Homo sapiens: one gene and its partner. The protein of the gene in region 2 purifies or fractionates together with the protein of the main gene of each other region. This does not show direct contact. Each region holds a gene or a part of one and is shown on either strand. Other genes may lie near its edges.

Region 1 (3,500 bases), on a different chromosome or scaffold from region 2:
TTCCTAATAGCCCATAATCCCAGTTTAATTGTGAGGAGAAACATCAAACAATCCCAGACTGAGGGACATTCTACAAGGAACCTGACCAGTCCTCCCCAAAACTGTAAAGGTCATGAAAGACAGAGACAGTTTTGACAAATGTACTATGATGATGTCAGAAGATTACCAGGGGGATCCGGATGAGGGGTCTTGAGAACTCTGTACTGTCTTTATAACTTGTCTATAAATCTAAAATTATTCCAAAATAAAAAAGCTTATTTAAAAAACTATCTTCTCCATGGCTACCCGTGTACCATCAAGCACTACTGGAGAAAATCCCCCACCTGGGGAGAGGGTTGTCCTTATAAACTCAAAGTTACTCATCTCACTGGGGTTTCAGTGAACCATGGAACCATCTTTCCCCAGTCAGCTCTCTTCCCATTTCTCTGCAATGAGTGTTTTAAACCTTTTCCACTCTCAGGAATGTAAACTAGTACAACCACTATGGAAAACAGTGTGGAGATTCTTTAAAGAACTAAAAGTAGAATACCATTTAATCCAGCAATCCCACTACTGGGTATCTACCCAGAGGCAAAGAAGTCATTACATGAAAAAGATACCTGCACACACGTTTATAGTAGCACAATTTGCAATTGCAAAAATATGGAGCCAACACAAATGCCCATCAATCAACTAGTGGATAAAGAAATGATGGTATATATATAGACTATGGAATACTACTCAGCCATAAAAAGGAACAAAATAATGGCATTCACAGCAACTTGGATGGAATTGGAGACTATTATTCTAAGTGAAGTAAGTCAGGAATGAAAAACCAAACATCGTATGTTCTCATTCATAAGTGGGAGCTGAGCTATGAGGATGCAAAGGCATAAGAATGATACAATAGACTTTGGGGACTCAGAGAAGAAAGGGTGTGAGGGGGATGAGGAATAAAAGACTACACATTGGGTACCATGTACACTGCTCGGGTGATGAGTACACCAAAATCTGATAAATCACCATTAAAGAAAGAACTTATTCATGTAACAAAACACCTGTTCGCCCAAAAGCTATTGAAATTAAACAAAACAAAACAAAACAAAACAAAAAACCTTTTCCACTCTCCTCAAACCATGGTATCTATCTACTACGTCTCCCCTTCCTCTCAACAGATTTCACTTTTGCAAAATCAAAAGCCACAAACCTTCTGGCTACCAAACCATCACACTTACTAATACCTACATCTACCCTTTTTCCATCTTGTCACAGTGGAACGAGTGACTGCCTCTGATATGGTTTGGCTCTGTGTCCCTACCCAAATCTCATGTGACATTGTAATCCTCAGTGTTGGAGGTGGGGCCTGGTGGGAGGTGATTAAATCATGGGGACATATTTCCCCTTTGGTGCTGTTCTCGTGATAGTGAGTTATCGAGAGATCTGGTTGTTTAAAAGTTCACCTCCCCCTCTCTCTCTTCCTCCTGCTCTGACCATGTAAGATGTGCTTGCTTATGTGCTTGCTTCCTCTTCACCTTACATCATGATTGTAAGTTTCCCGAGGCCTCCCCAGCCATGCTTCCTGTACAGCCTGTGGAACCGTAAGCCAATTAAACCTCTTTCCTTCCTAAATTACCCAGTCTCTGGTATTTCTTTATAGCACTGTGAAAACAAACTAATACAAGCCTCTTCCTGTCTGTTTTTTTGCCACTTCTGTTCAGGATCCTGTCTCTTCTTGGCCACCTCAAATGATTTAAAAAGAGAATGCTTTAGCCAGAGGCACTAAAAAGAGCAAGAACAGGCTTTGCTAGAAAGAGTGTATGTCCTGGGTTCCTCCTCCCAGATCTAAACTCTGGTCCCGTGGGGGAATTTGTGAGACCTAATCTCTGGCTATCATTGACATTTGTCAAGGAAAGGACTAAACGCATCATGATAAAACACCCTCCTCTTAGCTTTGGCAAAGATCTTGCATTATTCCTGTAGATAGGTAAGAGGACCAACTTCAGGTACAAAGGTTGGAATTTACAGTCTGTGAAGCTGGCTTTATCTTCCTGTCTCCTTTCAGGCAGGAAGTGGAATGGGCTTAGAAAAAAACCCTATTGTCTCCTGGAAGCACTGTCCTTAGTGTGACTCAACAGGCAGTACACTATAGTAGCTGACACTGGAAAGTGGGAATTAGAGAAGAGCTAAAAGTCAGTGGGACTCTCATGAATTGAGCTTTAAAACATGTACTTCTTTCGCTTTGAACCTAAGGCTTGAGTTGGTCTGGGTTCCCAGCTCCCTCTCCCACACCTCTATATTTTGTTACACGTATTAGAGAGTGACTATCTGTTCTTCAGACACCACCTTCTCCCTCTGCCCTAATTTTTTTAAGAGACCGAGTCTCACTGTGTTGCCCAGAATGGAGCACAATGGCTATTCATACGCATGATCAAAGTACACTACAGCCTTGAATGCCTGGACTCAAGCGATTTTCCTTCCTCAGCCTCCCAAGTAGCTGAGACTACAGGTGCGTGACACAGTGCCACGCCATAATATTTTCTTTTTAAGTTTAAAATATATAACTAGTATTTAAATTGCTAACCAAAAGAATTAAGCCTTCATCTAAGTACAATATGGAAAGGACATTTTTAATGGTTCTTTTAATCCTTATCAATGTGGACCTTTTACACTATTTTTAATGTGTGCGAAAACTTTAGTGGGTAGGCAATAATGTTTAGACTAGTTCTTGTTCAAGCACCAATTATGCAACATTTAGCTGCAGAATTTGCCAGCCTAGAAGGCTCAGTCAAGGGCAGACAGACTTTGCTTTGATAGCAAAATGATGAACGCTCAGTTGGGTACACCCAGGTCAGGTTATATGTGGGCTGTATCACTTTAAGAGGTTTCTTTGACCTGGATGTTATGAGCTGAATTGTGACACTCCCTGCCCGCCAACTTCCAAATTCATATGTTGAAGTCCTAATCCCCAGTACTTTAAAATGTGACTGCATTTAGAGACAGGGCCTTTAAAGAGGCAATCATGTCAAAATGAGGCCATTAAGAGGGGGCCCTGGTCCAATAAGACTGGTGTCCTCATAAGAGGAAGGGACAGCAGAGAAAAGGCCGCCTGGGGACACAGCAAGAAGGCAGCTATCCCCAAGTTAAGGAAAGAGGTCTCAGGACAAATCTCAGGACAAGTCTTGGCCTTGGACTTCCAGCCTCCAGAACCGTATGAAAATGAATTCCATCGTTTAAGCTGCCCAGCCTGTGATATTTTGTTATGGGATCCCTAGCAAATGAACACACTGGGGCTTTAGAAAACAACCAAAGTTTAAATAAAAATTACAGTATGAGTAAATTCTGAGCAGTTTTATCAAACAGCAATTTAGGCACGTGTAAATTAGATACACGACAAGGTCTCTCACTTGGGAATGAGTCAAGTCTTCTGGCTACCGTGGCTAGAGAGAGGTTTCAACACTGGCTGTGTCCTTTTCTGTGTGTGTGCAGGTATTTTCTGTCCTCTGCACCACGTGCTCATCCTT
Region 2 (3,836 bases):
TATGCCATTTGTAGTTCGTGTTTTGTCCCTGTTGTTAGCAGCCAGGCATGTATTTCAAATCATTTCCCAGTCAACTGACTTCATTTTTATGGTGGTTTAAATCGATAAATTATATTCTGTAGTTGAATAAACAAACAATATAGGCCGGGCACGATGGCTCACGTTTGTAATCCCAGCACTTTGGGAGGCCGAGGAGGGCAGATCACAAGGTAAGGAGTTCGAGACCAGCCTGGCCAACACATGAAACCCTGTCTCTACTAAAAATACAAAAATTAGCTGGGCGTAGTGGTGGGCTCCTGTAATCCCAGCTACTCAGGTGGCTGAGGCAGGAGAATCACTTGAAACCAGGAGGCAGAGGTTGCGGTGAGCTGAGATTGTGCCACTGCACTCCAGCCTCGGTGACAGAGCTAGACTCCGTCTCAAAAATAAACAAACAAACAAACAACATACTGGACAGGTCAAACATCAAAATGACCACCACTCCCCACAGTCCCTTCTGGGGAAGACTTTCCTGGTAAGAATAGGGGCAGGGCAGGGGACTGGAGGAAGCTCCTTCTCACAGTTGGCAATGTGCTCTTCCCAGGGACCCCACCATATCATCCAAAGCTGACAGACCAGGAGTGAGTATGTGACGCCAAGGGCAACAATCTCTAGGCTGGCCAGTGGTCCAGTTGGCGCAAAAGCTTAGCTCAACAGAGCAGTGAGAGTTAGTTGAACCAGTAAGAGCTCGTCCCTGAGGCAGTTCAAACTAGAACCACAGAACAAAGACAGAAAGAATAGGCAGAATAATAGTCACACCAATGGGAGACAACAGGGCAAGAAATCAGAAAACTGTTGCTGAGGTGGGGAGCAAGAAGAAAAATCAGGATCTAGAAGAACCTCCAGTTCCCAAAACCATGTTCAGCTGCCCGAAAGGCTGTCTCTTCCCAAAGAGAACTGCTTATGCAACTCTTCCTGGGTTCCATGAAACCCAAATGTGGAAGAGTCCCAGTTTTCCTATTTTCACACATGTCCTTACAGTAAAGTGCCCATTACTTAAAGATGAGCATCTGGCCCAGCGTGGTAGCTCAAGCCTGTAATCCCAGCACTTTAGGAGGCCGAGGAGGGTGGATTGCTTGAGGTCAGGAGTTCCAGACCAGCCTGGTCAACATGGCAAAACCCCGTCTCTGCTAAAAATACAAAAATTAGCCAGGCATGGTGGTGCGCGCCTATAATCCCAGCTACTCAGGAGGCTGAGGCAGGAGAATTGCTTGAACCCAGGAGGCAGAGGTTACAGTGAGCTGATATCACCCCACTGCACTCTAGCCTGGGCGACAGAGAAAGACTGCATCTCAAAAAACTAAACTAAACTAAACTAACTAAACTAAACTAAACTAAACTAAACTAAACTAAACTAAACTAAACTAAACTAAACTAAACTAGATGAGCATCTCTTCCTTAAGTAAAATGATCCCATTAAAAAAAGCCTTTCCCTTTAGATCTCTGTCCTTGGTGTCATGAAGACTGCTCTAACCTCAAGACCAATGAAGTAATCTCCTCTTATATTCTAAAACCTAACATCAAGGTACTGAATATCCTGTAGGGTCAGATAAAATTAATTCTCAAGATAACTGCTAATTTATTTATTTATTTTTTTTGAGACAGAGTCTTGCTCTGTTGCCCAGGCTGGAGCAATCTCAGCTCACTGCAGCCTCCCAAGTTCATGCAATTCTCCAGCTTTTGCCTCCATAGCTGAGAATACAGGCACCCACCACTGCACCCGGCCAGTAACTGCTAATTTAAATGGGATTTTAAAGCTTTCACAATCTTTAGGCCTTCAATAAGTGTTTTTTATTGCATTATGATTAAATACCAACTTTAAACCAAATCTCAACATCTTAGATATAATGCAATAATCTTATATATAAACTTTATCTTAATCTGTATTGCATCTTGTGAAGTATTAAATTATTATAATCTGGCCAGGCACGGTGGCTCATGCCTGTAATCCTAGCATTTTGGGAGGCCAAGGTGGGCAGATCACTTGAGGTCAGGGGTTTGAGACCAGCCTGGCCAACATGGCAAAACCCCGCCTCTACTAAAAATACAAAAATTTGCCAGGCATGGTGGCAGGACCCTGTAATTGTAATCTCAGCTACTCGGGAGCTGAGGTAGGAGAATATCTCGAACCCAGGAGGCATAGGTTGCAGTGAGCCAAGATCACGCCACTGCACTCCAGACTGTGTAACAGGGCAAGACTCCATCTCAAAAAAAGAAAAAAGTTACAATCTTACAGCAAATCAAATACTTTTACCCTGATTTTATATAATACTAGCATGGCACAACATATAATAGCATTTAATTATACCCATGGTATATGAAGAAATTGAAAACATATTAATATTCACAATTCCATTTCAGAATTAGAGTCGAAGAGGACTTCATTAAAAGGGTTTTGCAGGCCGGGCATGGTGGCTCACATCTGTAATCCCAACACTTCGGGAAGCCAAGGTAGGCAGATCATGAGGTCAGGAGATTGAGACCATCCTGGCTCATATGGTGAAACCCCGTCTCTACTAAAAATACAAAAAATTAGCCGGGCATGGTGGCACGCACCTGTAGACCCAGCTACTTGGGAGGCTGAGGCAGGAGAATCGATTGAACCCGGGAGGCAGAGGTTGCAGTGAGCAGAGACTGCCGTGAGCGGAGATCGTGCCACTGCACTCCAGCCTGGGCAACAGAGTCAGACTCCATCTCAAAAAAAAAAAATTAAAATAGGGGGGTTTTGCTGATACAAATACACCTGGCAACATTCCTCATTCCTGATTTGTATTAGTACCTGGAATGCCCACCGCAGGCCAAAAATACATTCCTAATCCTGGAACACTACAGAGTGAAAGACTACTTTAAAACGGCTTAGAACAGTCATTTATGTTGAATGAAATAACAAACATATATAATGTGCCAGGCATATATGTTCAATAAAACTAATTTCTTACTCTTTTCTCTTGGTTTTATATATATATGTATATATACACACACATACACATGTATCCTTAAAATAGATACACTTACACATAAGGAGATATATATAAGTATATACACTATATGTATATCTAGTCAGTGAGAATGACTTAGCTTGCACCTCATAAAAAGTTTCTTTTGAAAGCAGTAAACTTAGAGAAAATGGTATTAGCACATTCAGATAAAATCATATACTGAAGTTAAGGACACAGGGTTCTGGGAAAAGCCAGTGTTCCAAGTCCCAAACTTTGCTTCCAAAAGCAGGTTCTGGATGTTATGCCAATTTGCTTAAAAAAAAAAAAAGAAAAGAAAGAAAAACAGTCAAAGAGTAACAAGAACCAAAAACAAAGTCACATGCAATGAATATCTTTCATAGTATAACTGTCAGCCCTCCTCTGCTTCCCACAACTCTGCAAAATGTGAAATACAGCCTTGGGAGTGAGTCATTAACTAATTTAGCATCATCTCTTTTGCCAAGGGGCAGATTAACTGCTACCCCAAAATAAACAGGGAAATGGAGAGTCAGCTAAGTCCCACGGGGAATCCAAAATTGTAACTATATTAGCTAACATTTATCCCAGAATTAAATGCATTCACAGATGTGTTTAGAAAAAATTCCCAGGGCTGGGCATGGTGGCACAGGCCTTGTAATCCCAGCATTTTGGGAGGCCAAGTTCAAGACTAGCGTGGGCAACATGGTGAGACCCCATCTCTACTAAAAGTTAAAAAAAAAAAAAATTAGCCAGGCATGGTGGTATGCTCCTGTGGTCCCAGTTACTCACAAGCTGAGGTGGGAGGATCACTTGAGCCCAGGAGGTCAAGGCTGCAGTAAG

Evidence for each region. The genes of interacting proteins can lie anywhere in the genome.
Region 1: the proteins of MTHFD2 (region 2) and MSRB2 fractionate together in Homo sapiens (co-fractionation; one large-scale study listed by BioGRID). This does not show direct contact.

Annotation. Positions count from the first base shown.
Region 1 is NC_000010.11:23,098,579-23,102,078, reverse strand, and holds part of MSRB2 (methionine-R-sulfoxide reductase B2, mitochondrial precursor), read right to left. Parts: intron 1-3,500. UniProt on the Homo sapiens protein: Methionine-sulfoxide reductase that specifically reduces methionine (R)-sulfoxide back to methionine.
Region 2 is NC_000002.12:74,201,429-74,205,264, reverse strand, and holds part of MTHFD2 (bifunctional methylenetetrahydrofolate dehydrogenase/cyclohydrolase, mitochondrial isoform A precursor), read right to left. Parts: exon of another isoform or gene 3,786-3,836; intron 1-3,785. UniProt on the Homo sapiens protein: Although its dehydrogenase activity is NAD-specific, it can also utilize NADP at a reduced efficiency.